Regions from separate parts of the Homo sapiens genome. Here region 2 is linked to region 1. The links come from fine-mapping of genetic effects on gene expression. A gene starts in region 1. The other region holds a variant in brackets. All regions are shown on one strand. Distances are between the middles of the regions. Region 1 holds the start of VPS53-AS1 (VPS53 antisense RNA 1). Region 2 overlaps VPS53 (VPS53 subunit of GARP complex).

Region 1 (8,000 bases):
CGAGAGCATGAGGAAGGCTTCAGGGATGCCAGAAGTGTGCTCTGTCTTCCGTTAGGCAGCAGGATGTGCACATGTCTGGATGTTGATCAAATGGCATACGTGGTGTTTGTGTACTCTGTGAAAGTTATACCTAATTTTTTTAAAAAGAAAAAGAAATAGAACATGTGTCCACCTTGTTCCATCCCTCCTGATAGCCTGAGCTGTCTCCCCTGTGCCACCTCATTGAAGAATTTTCTATGGTGGGACCAATATGGTTCACCTATGTGGTTTTGTTCACATGGTTCTTTGTCTTCTAGGAGTGTGGGCCTGTATCTTATTTACGCAAAATTTTCATCACTGTTGATAGTCATCATGTCCCCAAGAATTGTAGGAGGCTCCTCGGGAAGTAAAGGGCCCCTCTCAAAGATTTCCATTGCTGGGTGATCAGCCTTCACAGGCATGGCATACTGGCCACCCTTGCACCCCCACATCCCATCAACAACATTAGCCAGCCCACACTGCCCCAGAAATTATCGCTGAGGCAGAAATGAATGTGGCAATAGCCACCCCTTGCCCAATGTCTCATGCCTAAGAAGATGAATTATCAACTATTTCAAAGTTGAAAACTAGCAGATTTTCATGATAAATGGGACCTTTCTGTCTTGTCTTTGCACAGACAGCCGCCAAATCTGTCAGGCTCATTCCCGCCTTTTCTGACTGCCTTGCTTTATGTATAAAACCTGAGACCAGGGTTTTCACCTCTCAGTGTCTGGTAAAGACAGAATTTTATGGTGACTGGCCAGGGAATGAAAGTGTCATATCTCCCTGTATATGAGGGACACTAGAGAATTATGCCTGGTGCATTCAAACCCTTCCTGTCATTTAAGACTGTACAATTATTTATGCATATAATGTATCTCTGGGAAGTAGAAAAGTAGGAAATATCTCCATATGCTTTAAAATATAATGACTGATTTTTTTTTTCCTACCAACAAATGAATGCTAAGACATGGCTTTGATTTTGACAAGGCTCTCAAAATTTGCTACATGGAAGACAGAGTTGAGTCCTGAATGGTAGTCTTTAAACAAAAATTCCAGTTAATTAATGTACAGAAAATAATGTAAAAAACAGTAACTAACTACTCAGCTCAGCAAAATATGTAACATGTTTCCACATTTACTTTACATCTTTTTTTTTTTTTTTTTTTTTTTTGAGAAAATGTCTCACCGTGTTGCCCAGTCTGGAGTACAATGGCGCGATCTCGGCTCACTGCAACCTTCACCTCCCGAGTTCAAGCAATTCTCCTGCCTCAGCCTCCCGAGTAGCTGGGATTACAGGTGTGCACCACCATATCTGGCTAATTTTTGTATTTTAGTAGAGATGGGGTCTCACCATGTTGGCCAGGCTGGTCTCAAATTCCTGACCTTAAGTGATCCTCCCACCTCAGCCTCCCAAAGTTCTGGGATTGCAGGCATGAGACACCGCGCCTGGCCCATTTTTTTTTTCTTTTCTTAAGAGACAGGGTCCCACTCTGTCTCCCAGGCTGGGGTGCAATGGTGCCATCATAGCTCACTGCAACCTGGAATTCCTGGGCTTAAGCCATCTTCCCACCTCAGCCTCCTAAGTAGCTGAGACTACAAGTGTGTGCCACTGTGCCTGTCTAATCTTATTATTTTTGTTTTTGTAGAGACAAGGTCTCACTGTGTTGCCCAGGGTAATCTTGAATTCGTAGCCTCAAGTGATCCTTCTGCCTCAGCCTCCCAAAATGCTGGGATTACAGGCATGAGCTGCCACACCCTGCCTGCTTTAGATCATTTTTATGTAAAGTAAATCATTACAGTTATTGCTGAAGACCGCCCCCATGAACCCCACCCTGCCCATCTCTTCCTCCATGCCCCAAAGTAAACACTGTCCTGATTTTGATTTTATTCTCATATGTGTTTTGATATATGTGTATATATTCACAAATGATATATGATTTTGTTTTGCATATTTTAAAACTATATAAATGGCATTAGACATATCATTTCCCCACTTGCTTTTTTTTGCCCAACTTACTATTTTCTGAGATTTATGCATGTTAATGCATGCTGTGTGCACCCATTCATTTTCACCTCAGCAGCATATTCCATTGCACGAATGTGCTGTCATTTGTTTATTCATTCCACTGTCAATGGACGTGTAGGTTGTTTCCAAACTTTTGCTTTTATAAATAGCGGATGCAGGGAACGTTTTTACATGGGCAAGAATTCCTCTAATGGATATAAGTATTAATGCTGTGTTATGGGTGATACACATCTCCAGCTAAGGAAATGTTGCTAAATTTCCCCCAACGTGCTTGAACTAACTTCTACTGTCACCACTAGTCTGAATTTCAGTGTGGCCGTGCCCACACTAGATTATCAACCTGTTTACTTCTGACTCTGATGGGTGTATTACGGTGTACATTTGTGAATTTCAGTGCCATGGCCGTGCCCACACTTGATTATCAAATAATCTGTTTACTTCTGACTCTGATGGATGTATTATGGTGTACATCTGTGGTTTTAATTTGCATTTCCCAGTTACTAACCAGGTTGCGTGTCATTTCATATGCCTTTCGGGCATTTGAGTTTCCTCTTTTGTGAATCCGGTGTTAGTATTGTTTGCCTGTTGTTGTGTCGCTGTTGGGATAGTTTGTGCTTTTCCTGTTGATGTGTAGGAATCTTCATGTTCGGAACCCCGTTCCCTTGTCAACGTTGCACGTATCTTCTCCTGATTTATGTCTTGTCTTTTACTTTGTTTGTTTCTTCTGATATAGATGCCTTTCATTTTAGGGTAGGTGGTTCATTCTTTCTGATGTTTGACATTCTTCTCCACCCATAAGCAATGAAAATAATCTCTGTATTTTCTTCTTCTTCTTCTTTTTTATTTTTTATTTTTTATGTATTTATTTTTTTGAGACAGTGTCTTGTTCTGTCACCCAGGCTGTAGCGCAAACCTCCCAGGTTCAAGCAATTCTCCTGCCTCAGCCTCCCGAGTAGCTGGGATTACAGGCATGCGCCACCACACCCGGCTAATTTTTGTATTTTTAGTAGAGATGGGGTTTCTCCATGTTGGCCAGGCTGGTCTCGAACTCCTGACCTCAGATGATCCACCCGCCTCGGCCTCCCAAAATGCTGGGATTACAGGCATGAGCCACTGCGCCCTGTATTTTCTTCTTAAAGTTTTTCTTTTTTATATCTAAGAATTTAATCCACCTAGAATGCTTTAGAGGCTTGTTCTGGGTTCCTCCGAGGAAAAGCAGCAGTCATTTCCACTGGAATTCTGGAAAGTGCGCTAACGCCAGGCTCTTCACGTGGGCCTTGAGCAATCAGTGCCATTCCCCCTCCTGGAGGTTTGCATACCCTTTTCTCTGAGCCCTTGGCCTTTTCAACAAAGCAGACACTAGGATAGTAAGAATTTCTATCTCTAGAAATCCAGAAAGGTCCAAAATGCCCTGCACTTTGCTGGCTACAGTTGAATGACCTGCGTGGTGCAGGCCTTTGACTAGCTGCATGAAATTGCTCTGACCTTAGTGTAATTCCTTACCACACCTAAATTATTCCACATAAAACACTGACGTCTTCCCCATGTTTCTACCATTGTTAAAATTACAATTGCCATAACCCTTAAGTTCATAGTATCTGTCGTTACTTAGTTTCTCTTTAATCATTAATTCTTCTGTCCAAAGCAAAGTAAATAGGAAATTGGAGGATGCAAAGTGTCGCAGGGCCTGAAGGGTCCCATTTCTCACCTACCTGATAGGATTACAGAAGGCTTTCCCAAAGAAGCAGGCAGTGGCAGAGAGTACAGGCCTTGCCCTGAATATAAGTTTGGCCGTTATCACCGGAGTTGAGTGGTGGCATTGGGAGCTGTCACCCCACTGCTGCCGTTGTCTGCTTGGTGACCATGTGGTTCCATTCTCCTAAGCCATCTCAACAGGCCAGAGTACACCCTTCTGTCTTCAGCCATTTCTCTGCTCCCTGGTTGCCAAGAGCAGCGGCGGCAGCAGAGCAGGGCAGTCAGCAGGAGTCAGTGTGAGCTCGTCACCAAAACCACCCAGGGACATTTACCTGGGCAACCGGAAATGGAATTCCAGCTTCCCTTCCACCTTTTGTCTAACCCCGTTACCTGGGCAACCGGAAATGGAATTCCAGCTTCCAGTCCACCTTTTCTCTAACCCCGTTACCTGGCAACCGGAAATGAATTCCAGCTTCCCGTCCAACTTTTGTCTAACCCCGTCCGTTGCATGAGATGAGTTTGGTGAGCTGTTAATCCTCTGGAACTTTTTCTCATCTGTAAAATGGGAACAATAAATAACATCCAGGGTAGGTAAGGCTTTACTCAGATTAAATGTGACAAAACGTTCCTCATGTCATTCCCGGCAGTCAGTGAGCCTTTAGGACTATGGGTGTCCTTCTAGATAATTGGCATCCCAGAGAACCAGAACAAACAAAGAGGAAAAGGTAGATTGTTGCCAGGATACAATGTTTACATTTGGGTAAATCTCCTACATCCTCAGTAACATCCAGAGAAATTCAAAGTAAAACAATAATGAGTTACTATTTTTTGCCTAATGAATAATCAGGATTTGATGAGTTTTCAGTGCTGATAAGGGTGCAGTCTGCATGGCTGGCAGAGGTGTAAATGGGTCCATTCCATTGGAAAGATCTTAAAGTTTACACAACCACACACATCACAGAGTACTGCACAGCCATTAAATCACGATTCTTCTTTAGAGATGGGGTCTCGCCATGAGGCCCAGGCTAGAGTGCACTTAAAAACCTTGATTTGTTTTTTAAAGACTGCAAAGATGGGAAAATAGAATATAAAAATTGTGTATATTAAGTGAGAAAACCAGGTTATAAAATTGAATATACATACAGTATGATTCTGATTTAGTTTTATGGAGGAGTTGTGGTTTGTTACTGAGGCAGGGTCTCCCTCTGTCACCCAGGCTGGAGAGTTACAGTGGCACAATCTTGAGTCACTGCAGCCTCAACCTCCCAGGCTTAAGCGATCCACCCACCTCAGTCTTCCTCAGTAGCTGGGACCACAGATGCGCACCCCCACGCCTGGCTAATTTTTGCATTTTTTGTAGAGGCGGGGTTTTGCCATGTTGCCCAGGCTGGTCTCAAATTCCTGAGCTCAAGCGATCCTGCTGCCTGGCCCTCCTGAAGTGCTGGGATTACAGGTGTGAGCCACGGCTCCTGGCCCCCTGATTTAGTTTTTTATATACGTACACATAGGCTGGCTCCTTGATGTTGTTTCTCCTAGGTGATGGGAATTATACATAATTTTTTTCTTTTATATTTCTGTTTATTTCCCCAATTTTTTGCAACAAGAATGTGTTACGTGTATAACGAGAAAAACATGACTCATCGGCATGAGTCCACTCGGCACTGGGTCGCTGGAAGGGGCCGGTAATGCTCTCTGCTTTGCTCCACAGCTGCTGCTGGACACCCACTCGCTGAAGATGGTCCTGCTCGATCTCCCCTCCATCAGCTCGCAGGTGGTGAGGAAGGCACCCGCCAGCTACACCAAGATCGTTGTCAAAGGCATGACCCGGGCTGAGATGATCCTCAAGGTGATGGCTTGTGTTAAAAGGGGCCAGTTATTTATTTAATCTCTTTTTCTGAGAAGCCTTGGTTTTGAAAGCACAGGGTAGGTCCTATCCTCACCGGCCTCAAAGCATGGTCCACATTCTTGGGCTGGACTGGATTTTGGCCTCATCAGATATTGTTGAAAGTCTGTGGATAGTTATTAGGGCTCAGTAATTCCTTCTGACAAATGAATTTCTTGTTGGCGTGGGATTCTCTTGTGATCAAATGTGGTCAAGCTTGGAGGTTAGGTGGTTGCCACTGTGAATCAGTGTATGTCAGGGATCTCCGCTTCTCAGCAGGAATTTCAGGCACAGCTCTCAGTTACTCCCTTCCACATCAGCCTTTTTGGCTTTCTGTACTCTGCCACTTTAAATGAACTCTGAACAGATGTTGTAGTAACTGAATCTAATCAGCAAATGGATATTTTAAAGCCCCATTTAACAAGACTGTACTTCGAGTGAGGAACGTCTGAAGCCCTGCGCATCTGCCTCTGGTTTCCAGCTATTTTGAAGAGTAGGGATGAGGGCTGGAGAACAGATGGTCCTGTGGTGATGTGGTCTTAAAAGCCCAGGACCTGTAGGCTCTTCAGGCCACTTCCTAAACCAGATGACTCAGGGACGGCAGGAGTAGGAAGTGGCAGCAGGGCCTCAGACACCGGTGGGATGTGGGTGAGGATGAAGCAGCTCATGTAGGTAAGGGTGAAGAGCTCATGTAGGTGAGGGTGAAGAGCTCATGTAGGTGAGGGTGAAGCAGCTCATGTAGGTGAGGGTGAAGCAGCTCATGTAGGTGAGGGTGAAGAGCTCATGTAGGTGAGGGTGAAGCTGCCTCATCATGTTCTTTCCCTGCTGCTTACTGCTGGGGAGGAGAGCCTGTGGTCTGGGAATTATCGGCAGAGGATGCCTGAGTGAACTCCTCCTCGCCACTCTTCCCTTCAGTCTCAGGAATTCAAAACAAATCAGTCGGCTGGGGAAAGAAAATCAGATACTGCATTCCAGAACAAAACGGAAATGAATAAGGGTTGCAGTGCCGTTCCTTTCCTTTGTTTGTATGTTAATTGATAGTTTAAGTTAGTCGTTACATGAAGTTACAGATTTTAAGTCTCCAAAAGGTGAGGCAGCTTTGGCATTTTTGTTTTTGCAGAAATCCACTTACTTATACCAGCTCCTTTTGCCACCCATTTCTCAGGAATCATAGTACGTCAAGGCAGAAGGAGCAAGTACCGTGTACTGGTGAAATGCCTGGAACAGGAGACCCTCTCACGCAGGGTTTCCCGGATGGTCCTGATAGTTTAAAAGTCACCTGGGACTCCAGCCAGGCCTACTGAATTAGAGTCTTTAGAGGAGGGCCCCGGAAACCCATACTTCAAACAGCAGCGCAGGTGTATTTAGGATTCAGCAAATTTAGGACATTGCTGTAGTGGCATGTGAAGATGAGATGGGCCACTGGGGCGTTTCTAGTCTGGGTTGCTGCTGCTTAAGGAAACCTCTCAGAATCCATTTAGCGCTCGGCGGGCAAGTGAGGAGTGAGTTTTCCTGAAGGGCCCGCTCCCGTCTCCTCCTGCGGTGGGTAGTGAGTTTTCTTGAGGGCCCGCTCCTGTCTCCTCCCGTGGTGGTAGTTTTCCTGAGGGGCTTGCTCCTGTCTCCTCCCGCTGTAGGTAGTGATGGCCCCTCATGAACCGTTGGTGGTGTTTGTTGACAACTACATCAAACTTCTCACAGACTGCAACACAGAAACCTTTCAGAAGATACTGGACATGAAGGTTTGTGCCGGGACATTTGGTCCACACCTGCTCATCCCCCTCACACTCAGCGGTTCTTAACCGGGAATTGGGATATAAGTTCCGGGGGGGCTTTCTCAAAATGCATGTGCCTGGCTCCACAGAGCAAACCGGATTCAGAGAAGCCTCTGGAGGAGGATGGCCCCGGGCACGTGCACTTCAGGATTCTGACAGGCCCTGCATGCCCCGCTGAGACCACCTGCACAGGGAGGATGGGGCAGGGGCAGGGGGATGAGGACAGGCATGTTGTCCTTCCCACCTTCTTGACCTGTCCTTTCTCCTCTGTCAGCCGCTTCTTTCCCTTCCTTTACCTTTTCTTCCCCTCTCTTTTCCTCCCACGCTACTACCCAGGGGATGGTGAGTCCCTTGAGGAAACGGTTCATCCTCAGCCTGGAGTAACTATGCTGTCTCCAGAGCCTCTGCTGACCCCATATCCAGATACTGCGCTGTCCCCCGTGGGCCATTCTGGCCCAGACTTCGTGACGGTTCTGTTTCTCTCTCAACCTCAGGGGCTGAAGAGGAGTGAGCAGAGCAGCATGCTGGAACTCCTGCGCCAGCGGCTCCCCGCACCGCCCTCGGGGGCAGAAAGCTCCGGCTCACTGTCCCTGACGGCGCCAAC
Region 2 (8,000 bases), 24 kb before region 1:
TTTAAATTTTTTGTAGAGCTAAGAGTCTTGCTATGTTGCCCAGGCTGGTCCTGAACTCCTGGCGTCAAGCAGTCTTCCCACCGAGTCCTCCCCAAGTGCTGGGATTACAGGCATGAGCCACAGTGCCCAGCTGAGATGGATCATTTTTAATTACTGAGCGCTACCTCATGTTCCTCTCATGTTCCTATTTTTGGCTTTTATGTGCCTATGCCTTTTTTTCCCAAATGAATGTCAATTCCGTAAGTGCACAGACCATGTCTTTCACCCCTCTTTTATCTCTCATGTAGTCTTGAATATGGGAGATTCATTTTTGTTAATTAAAAACCAATCAGCCATGTCCTTTATTTACGTATTATCTTTGATTAGTATCTGACACATGCTAAAAACCTTGGTGTGGTCTCACCAGAATGGGTGTTTTCATTAGTGCTTAAAGTAGTAACTTCTGACTCATTCTTCATTCTTGCCCACTGAGAGGTTTTTCCAACTCCTTCTGAGCTCTGGTGCCAATGTAAGAGTATTTGATCAGGTTGTGAACTCTGGTTTTCTAATATCGTGGTGGCCCATCAGTCAGCCCTTGGCCCTCAAGTCTCCTCCTTTGGCACTTACTGAGCGCTACCTCATCTTCCTATTTTTGACTTTTATGTGCCTATGCCTTTTTTTCCCAAATGAATGTCAATTCCGTAAGTGCACAGACCATGTCTTTCACCCCCTCTTTTATCTCTCTTGTAGTCTTGAATATGGGAGATTCATTTTTGTTAATTAAGTTGGAAATGGGCCTTTGTTATGCTAAACCCAAGTAACATGCAGCTGCAACTCTAGAACTTTGTAGAGCAGGGGTTGGCAAACTAGAGCCTGGGAACCAGATCTGGCCCACTGCTTGTATTTGAAAATAAAGTTTTATTGGAATACAGCCATGTTCCTTTATTTATGTATTATCTATGGCTGCCTTTTTGCAATATAGTGGTAGAATTGAGCCATTGCAACAGAGACTAGCCCACAAAGCTAAAAAAATTAAATATTTACTGTCTGGCCCTTTACAGAAAAAGTTTGCCAATGTCTGCTCTAGAGTCATAGGCTCTTGTAGCAAATTCTGGAGAAACAATTTATCTAGGTTATACTGGCCAGTACCAGAGGGCAGTGGGAGGAACACTAACTTTAGAGTCAGACAGACCTAACTCCTCCAGGGTTTCCTTTGGGGTGTTGAGCAAATGATTCACCTGTCTGGGCCAACGTGACATCATCTGGGCCCACATACCCCAAGTGAACTGTGGATCTCTGCCTCCCAGCATTGCTGTGAGGATGAAACATGGAACGGGCGGGTCTAGTGCCAGGCACATAGTAAATGCTCATTAAATGTTAGTTCCCTCTCCCTCTTGTCAGGAGGAATGACCATGTCACAAGGTTGTGTAAGCAGACATTTGGTCTGAATTTGGTTTTGCAGTAGATTGTAAATATTTAACAAAAATAAGATTAAAACCAAAATGTAGGCTTTAGGGTTTTATGAACTGAAGTGGCAAGTCCTAAAATAGCTGATGTCACAGTTTTATTCAAAAAGCTGATCTTTTCAGCAGTCCGGTGCTGATGGGTACTTCCAGTATTCTCAGCATTCACAGGAGAACACTCTGAGCAGGCAAAGTGAGGCCAGTCCATCTGCTTAGAGGATTCGTTTTGCCAGCTCTCATGATCCCCTCGCTGCTGGTAAGCATTCTCTACATCCTGAGTGGGATCTGTGCCAGCTGCCATCTCTCCTGAACTGCCACACACTTCAGATCGGAATGCAGCTGCCGAAAGAATTTTCACATTCACCAAAGGAAGAGTGGGATTTTTTTTTTTCAATAAAATCACGGTTGGAAGGGGTTTAACACTGCAAGTGTTGCTTATACGAACTGTCGGTTCGTTCGGTGGATTTCCCTCAAACCCTGCCCCGTCCCACCCTCCACTTCTGCCCCGTGCCCACACCAGCAAATACGAACAGAGACCGTGCCTCCAGAGTCCTTTGTTTATATCATAGGAAAACCACAGACTTGGGAACGCAGCAGCTGGGAGGCCATTACTTTTTGTCTGAGTCTTCTGGAGTTCTAGCAAAATAAAATCCATGTGATGGAAATAAACAAGCCAAGTGGTCACAAATTGATTCAACACACATTCTGTGTTCTTGATGCCTGCATCCTGTTTTGTGTAGTTTCTTCTAGGATTTAAAAAAACTTTTGTGATAATGGTTATTTCTGTCTCTGATTCTATCATTTTTGCTGCTGGTTAAACAGTTCAGTTCAGACCCTGCCCAGCACAGTGCTGGGAGCTGCAAGGCTCAGAAAGGCATAAACCCTTGGCTAAGGTGTTTAGATTCCAGTAGCTGAGGGCAAGAGATGTGTAAGATGACAGCAATACCCAGTAACTTTAATATAAGAGATGAGGAAATCAGTGCCATAAGAAAAGTACAAAATACACCCTTTTTAAAGAGGGAGGAGTTCATATCCAGGTGGGGAGGCAAAGAAGGCCCTCGTAAGGAAGTGGTGTTTGAAACAGATGAGGGCGAAATTCTGAATGAGTTTGTGATTAGTAGGGCAGTTCAAACAGGGTGAAAACATGAGTAAAGAGAGGTTAGGGAAGCTAAAGAGCTTGGTTCAAACTGCCAATCTCATTCAACATCCCAGGGGCTCCTCAGGCTACTCCTGTACTTGGACTGACAGAGTTAAGATTGGAAACGAGACTGTCCTCAAGGAGTCTATACCCTGCTGGGAAGAAAACTGAGAACAACCAATACTGTAAATAAGTGTATCTTATAAATGTCAGAAGGACTGTTGGCTGGCCAAAGTGGAGTGTAGTCGTTGGATATTTCCAGAAGGACTGTTGGCTGGCCAAAGTGGAGTGTAGTCGTTGGATGATTCCAGAAGGACTGTTGGCTGGCCAAAGTGGAGTGTAGTTGTTGGATGATTCCAGAAGGACTGTTGGCTGGCCAAAGTGGAGTGTAGTCGTTGGATATTTCCAGAAGGACTGTTGGCTGGCCAAAGTGGAGTGTAGTCATTGGATGATTCCAGAAGGACTGTTGGCTGGCCAAAGTGGAGTGTAGTCATTGGATGATTCTGAGTTGACGGAAGGAGACTTCCTTGACAAGAGGGATTGAGCCTGGCAACTTGGTTAAGTCATTTTCCTGGGAGACCTCATTCTCATGGAAGGCATCCCATGGCCTCTTCCTTGGTTGGCATATAGAGCTTTCATTATCTATCTCTTTACTCCACTGCTAGGTCAGTTTCTGCCGCTCACTCC[G/A]GAGTATGTGCCCTGTTCTCCAGTCGCAGCCATGTTTACTTCCCTGAATGCATATTGCTCTTTTGCGGCTTCCATGCCTTTTCTCATTTTATTCTTTCTGCCCAGAATTTTCTTCCTGCTATCGTCTGCCCAAGGAGCACGTCCTTTAAGATCAAGTTCAAATGTCTGTCCCCATTTAAAAACCTGAGGTATAATTCATATACCACAGAATTCACCCTTTTAAAGTATACAGTTGGCCAGGAGCAGTGGCTCACTCCTTTGGGAGGCTGAGGAGTGCAAATCATCTGAGGTTAGGAGTTCGAGGCCAGCATGGTGGGACCCTGTCTCTATTAAAAACACAAAAAATTTGCTGGACATGATGGCACACACCTATAGTCCCAGCTACTCAGGAGGCTGAGGTAGGAGAATCTCTTGAACCTGGGAGGCCGAGGTTGTAGTGAGCCAAGATTGCAGCACTGCACTCCAGCCTGGGTGACAGAGTGAGACTCTATTTTATAAATAAATAAATAAAGTGTACAATTTAGTTGTTTTTAGTATATCCACAATGTCATGAAACCACCACCACCATCTAATTCCAGAACATCTTCATTACCCCAAAAAGAAACCCCGTACCTCTCAGCAGTCATTCTACATTCCCCTGACAACCATTAGCCTACTTTCTGTCTCTATAGATTTGCCCCTCCTGACATTTTGCATACCTAGAATCATATGGCATGTGGGACATCTTGTGCTTGGCTTTCTTCACTTAGCGTAGTGTTTTCAGGGCATGTGCATGGTGGGGCATGTGTCAGCACTCCATTCCTTTTTGTGGCTGAGTAACATTCCATCATATGGATAGACCACATTTTGTTTATTCATTCGTCTATTGGACGTTTGAGTTATTTCTACTTTCTAATTTTGAATAATGCTGTGAACATTCATGTACAATTTTTCGTGTGAACATGTTTTCAGTTCTCTTCAATATGTACCTAAAGGCCAGGCGTGGTGGCTCATGCCCGTAATCCCAGCACGTTGGGAGGCCGAGGTGGGCAGATCACCTGAGGTCAGGAGTTCAAGACCAGCCTGGCCAACATGGCGAAACCCTGTCTCTAATAAAAATACAAAAATTAGCCGGGTGTGGTAGCGTGCGTGCCTGTAATCCCAGCTACTTGGGAGGCTGAGACAGGAGAATGGCTTGAACCTGGGAGGTGGAGATTGCAGTGAGCCAAGATTGCACCACTGCACTCCAGCCTGGGTGACAGAGGGAGACTCTGTCTCAAAAAAAAAAAAAAAAAAAAAAGGATCTAAGGGACCTAAGGAATGGAACTGAAAGAGCCGTATGGTCAATTTATGTTTAACATTTTGAGAAAGTGCCACACTGTTTTCTGAAGTGACTGTGCCGTTGTACCTTTCCACAGCAAAGTGTAAGGAATCCAGTTTCTCCACATCTTCTCCCACACTTGTTTTCCTTTTTTAATTATAGCCATTTTCGTGGGTGTGAAGTGGTATCTCATTGTGATTACAGTTTGCATTCCTTGCATGACTAATATGTTGATCACCTTCTCAGATGCTACTGGCGATTTGTATATTCTCTTTGAAGAAATGAGAATTAAATGTTTTGCCCATTTTAAAATTGGGTTGTCTTTCTGTTGTTGAATTGTAAAAGTTCTTTTTATATCTGGATACTAGACCCCTTATCAGATATGAAATTTGTAAATATTCTCTCCCATTCTGTGGGTGGGTTGCCTTTTCACTTTCTTGATAATGTCCTTGATTTTCTGAAGTTGGTATATCGTGTGTGTGTGTGTGTGTGTGTGTGTGTGTGTGTGTGTGTGTGTGTGAGATATCTAAGATACCATTGCCTGATCCAGAATCATAAAGATTTACTCTGTGGTTTCTTCTAAGAAATTTAGGTCTTCACAAAAAAGAAAAAAAGGAAAAAAATGTAGGTCTTCAATCCATTTCGAGTTAATTTTTGCATATGGTGTGAGGCAAAGATTCAGCAGCATTCTTTTGCTGAAAGGATACTCAGCTTTCCCAGCACTATTTGTTGAAACGACTATTCTTTTCACATTGGATGATCTTGATACCCTCGTAAAAAATCAGTTAACCATAGATGTGTGGGATTATTTCTGGACTCTCAGTTCTATTCCATCTATCTGTATGTCCACCCTCAGGCCAGTACCACACTGTTTGGCTATAATAGCTTTGTAGTAATCTTTGAAATCAAGAAGTATGAGTCTTCCAACTTTGTTCTTTTTCAACACTGTTTTGGCTCTTCTAGGTCCCTTACAATGTCAGCATTTCTTGCCTCAGCCAGAGCATATTTATTTCTCTTTCAAGACACCATAGTACCTAGACTACCTTTCTGCTTTGTTATGTAATCATTTTTATGTCTTTGTCTTCCCTATTAAACTTTGAACAACTTGAGGGCTGTGTCTTATTCATTTTGGAAACCCGTGGCATGGCACAGTACTTGCTTAACTGTAGTATTCCCTGAATGACTTTGAAGGTAAAGAGGGAGCCAGGGAGTGGGAGAGAAAGAACCAAAGGACCACAAACACACTTTTGACCAAAGATTGGTAAACAAGTGAGACATAGATAACTCTACTGAGCAGAGGTAGCCAGGTGGAGCTGGTAGATGTAGAGTAGGAAACTTGGACAACTTTGTGAGAGACGGTGGGGTCATAGAATCCCTGAAACCTTTAGGTCCATAGCTGGTGCTGTTGAGGATGGAGTGATGCTCCTCAATGGCACCTGATAGCAGAAGGGCTTCTGACTTCAGCAGGTGGCATCCTGGAGCCGATTGAAGAGATGTGGGAATGAAGGAATACGAGCCCGCGGGGGTGTGGCCCTGAGTCCTGCTGCTAGACAAGGAGAGGGAAATGCAGAGCGGTAGTTTGCTAGATTCACATGCAGGTGCAGCCTTCTGCAGGCCAGGCCGAAGAAGGGGGAGGAAAATGTGATGAAAGTCAGGTGGTCCCTCTGAAACTCTGACTTTGAGATTCCAGTAGTGTTGCTGATGAGTTACAGCAAAATTAACTTCTAGACCACGTTTCCTTCCCATAGTGTTATTTTCTTTCTTTCATAAAAAAATTTCTTCACTCTGTTGCCCAGGCTTGGGTGCGGTGGCATAATCATAGCTTACTGCAGCCTTGACCTCCTGGGTTCCAGTGATCCTCTCACCCTAGCCTCCCAAATAGCTGGTACTACTGGCGCACACCACCACACCTGGCTAATTTTCTTGATTTTTAGTAGAGATGAGGTCTTGCTATGTTGCCCAGGCCAGTCTCAAACTCCTGAGCTCTAGTGATCCTCCCACCTCGGCCTCCCAAAATGCTGGAATTACAGGTGTGAGCCACTGTGCCTGGCCTCCATATTGCTTATTTTCTTAGATAACCTGTATGAGTTGATAATAAGTTACTATTTACTGAGCACTTACCAGGAATTGGAACCCAATTAATTTCATTCTAACAATAAATTCATCAGATGGCTATGCTATTTCCCCTTTTCACAGATAAAGAAGCTGAAACAGAGACATTAAATCACCTGCTCCAGATCTTTTAGCTACTTGGGAGGCTAAGGTGGGAAGGTCACTTGAGCCTGAGAGGCAGAGGTTGCAGTGAGCTGTGATCACGCCACCACAGTGCCTCTTTATGCAGGATTGTGGCATGCCATACAGAGAGAGTGAGTAAGTCTTTTTGGCAAATGTGGCAACTGAGGCAAAATCAGCTTAAGTAACCTGCCTAAAAGTGGAAGAGCCTCGGCCTCCTAAACTGCTGGGATTGCAAGCATGTTGCCATCGTGCCCGACCAGATGTTTTTGAAAAAAGGAATAAAATTTAAATCACCATAATTTCAATTAGTTGATACATTTCTGTCAGCATGTGCCCAGTCCTGGTGGGTCCACACGAGTGTTCATGCTGATATGATTATGAGTTCTTCAAGCATTCACCATCATCATGGTGTATATTCATCTCCAGCTTTTCTTGATCTGACACCAGGACTTTTCTACAGTGGAGAAGATGTGTTGAACAGCCAACCCACATATTCCAATCTGCGTTGAATATTTTTCCCTGAAAACTAATGAACTTTCCTTCTGGTATCTTCTTTCCTTCCTTCCTCCCTTCCTCCCTCCCTCCCTCCCTGCCTTCCTCACTCCCTCCCTCCCTCCCTTCCTCCCTCTCTCCGTTCCTCCCTTCCTCCCACTCTCCCTTCCTTCCTTCTTTCCTCTCTCCCTCCCTTCCCCTGTCCCCTCCCCTCCCTCCAGACTCCCTTCCCTCCCTCCAAACTCCCCTCCTTCCCTCCCTCCTTCCCTCCTTCCCTCCCTCCCTCCCTCCCTCCCTCCCTCCCTCCCTTCCTTCCTTCCTTCCTTCCTTCCTTCCTTCTCTTCTTCATATTATGCCCAAAGCCATATAACTTATAATAGTGAAGCTAGAAGTAAAACTAGTTCTCCTGATTCTGGAAAAAGTAGTTATTTGGAGTGTTTTGGTGGAAATACAAAGGATTCTATCTTTTAGATTTAAATCCTACAAATCCTTAGAAATGAGTATGTCTGGTTATGCCCCTGTACGTAGGATAGAGAGCCGTGGGCTCCCTAGCAGGGGCTGTTGGTCTCATGGTCCCCGCCTCTCTCCGTGCCTTTTCCTAGGGCTGCTCACATCACTCAGGTAAATAAATCCAAGTCTCTGTTCAGAAGCAAACACACCTAGTGTTTTGCCTATTAATGGTAGTTTTAGGAAAAAACAGAAACTG

What was found. PIP is the estimated chance that this variant, and not a neighbour inherited with it, causes the effect. A credible set is the group of variants that fine-mapping cannot tell apart.
Region 2: its variant is the best candidate, but not a certain one, in a credible set for the expression of VPS53-AS1 in whole blood (INTERVAL, PIP 0.56).

What each region holds. Positions count from the first base shown.
Region 1 is chr17:519,189-527,188 of GRCh38, reverse strand. VPS53-AS1 (VPS53 antisense RNA 1) reads right to left here and starts at 4,452. Exons shown (of 3, transcript XR_007065570.1): 1 at 3,760-4,452. It overlaps VPS53 (VPS53 subunit of GARP complex), which reads left to right. Exons shown (of 22, transcript NM_001128159.3): 20 at 5,451-5,588; 21 at 7,259-7,363; 22 at 7,891-8,000. RefSeq lists an enhancer at 6,207-6,708.
Region 2 is chr17:543,417-551,416 of GRCh38, reverse strand. The region is part of intron 17 of VPS53 (VPS53 subunit of GARP complex); the gene reads left to right. It overlaps VPS53-AS1 (VPS53 antisense RNA 1), which reads right to left. Exons shown (of 3, transcript XR_007065570.1): 3 at 64-1,781. Among named protein-coding and RNA genes, the nearest start is that of VPS53-AS1, 25 kb to the right of the region's middle. The variant G/A (reference allele first, on the strand shown) is at 3,268.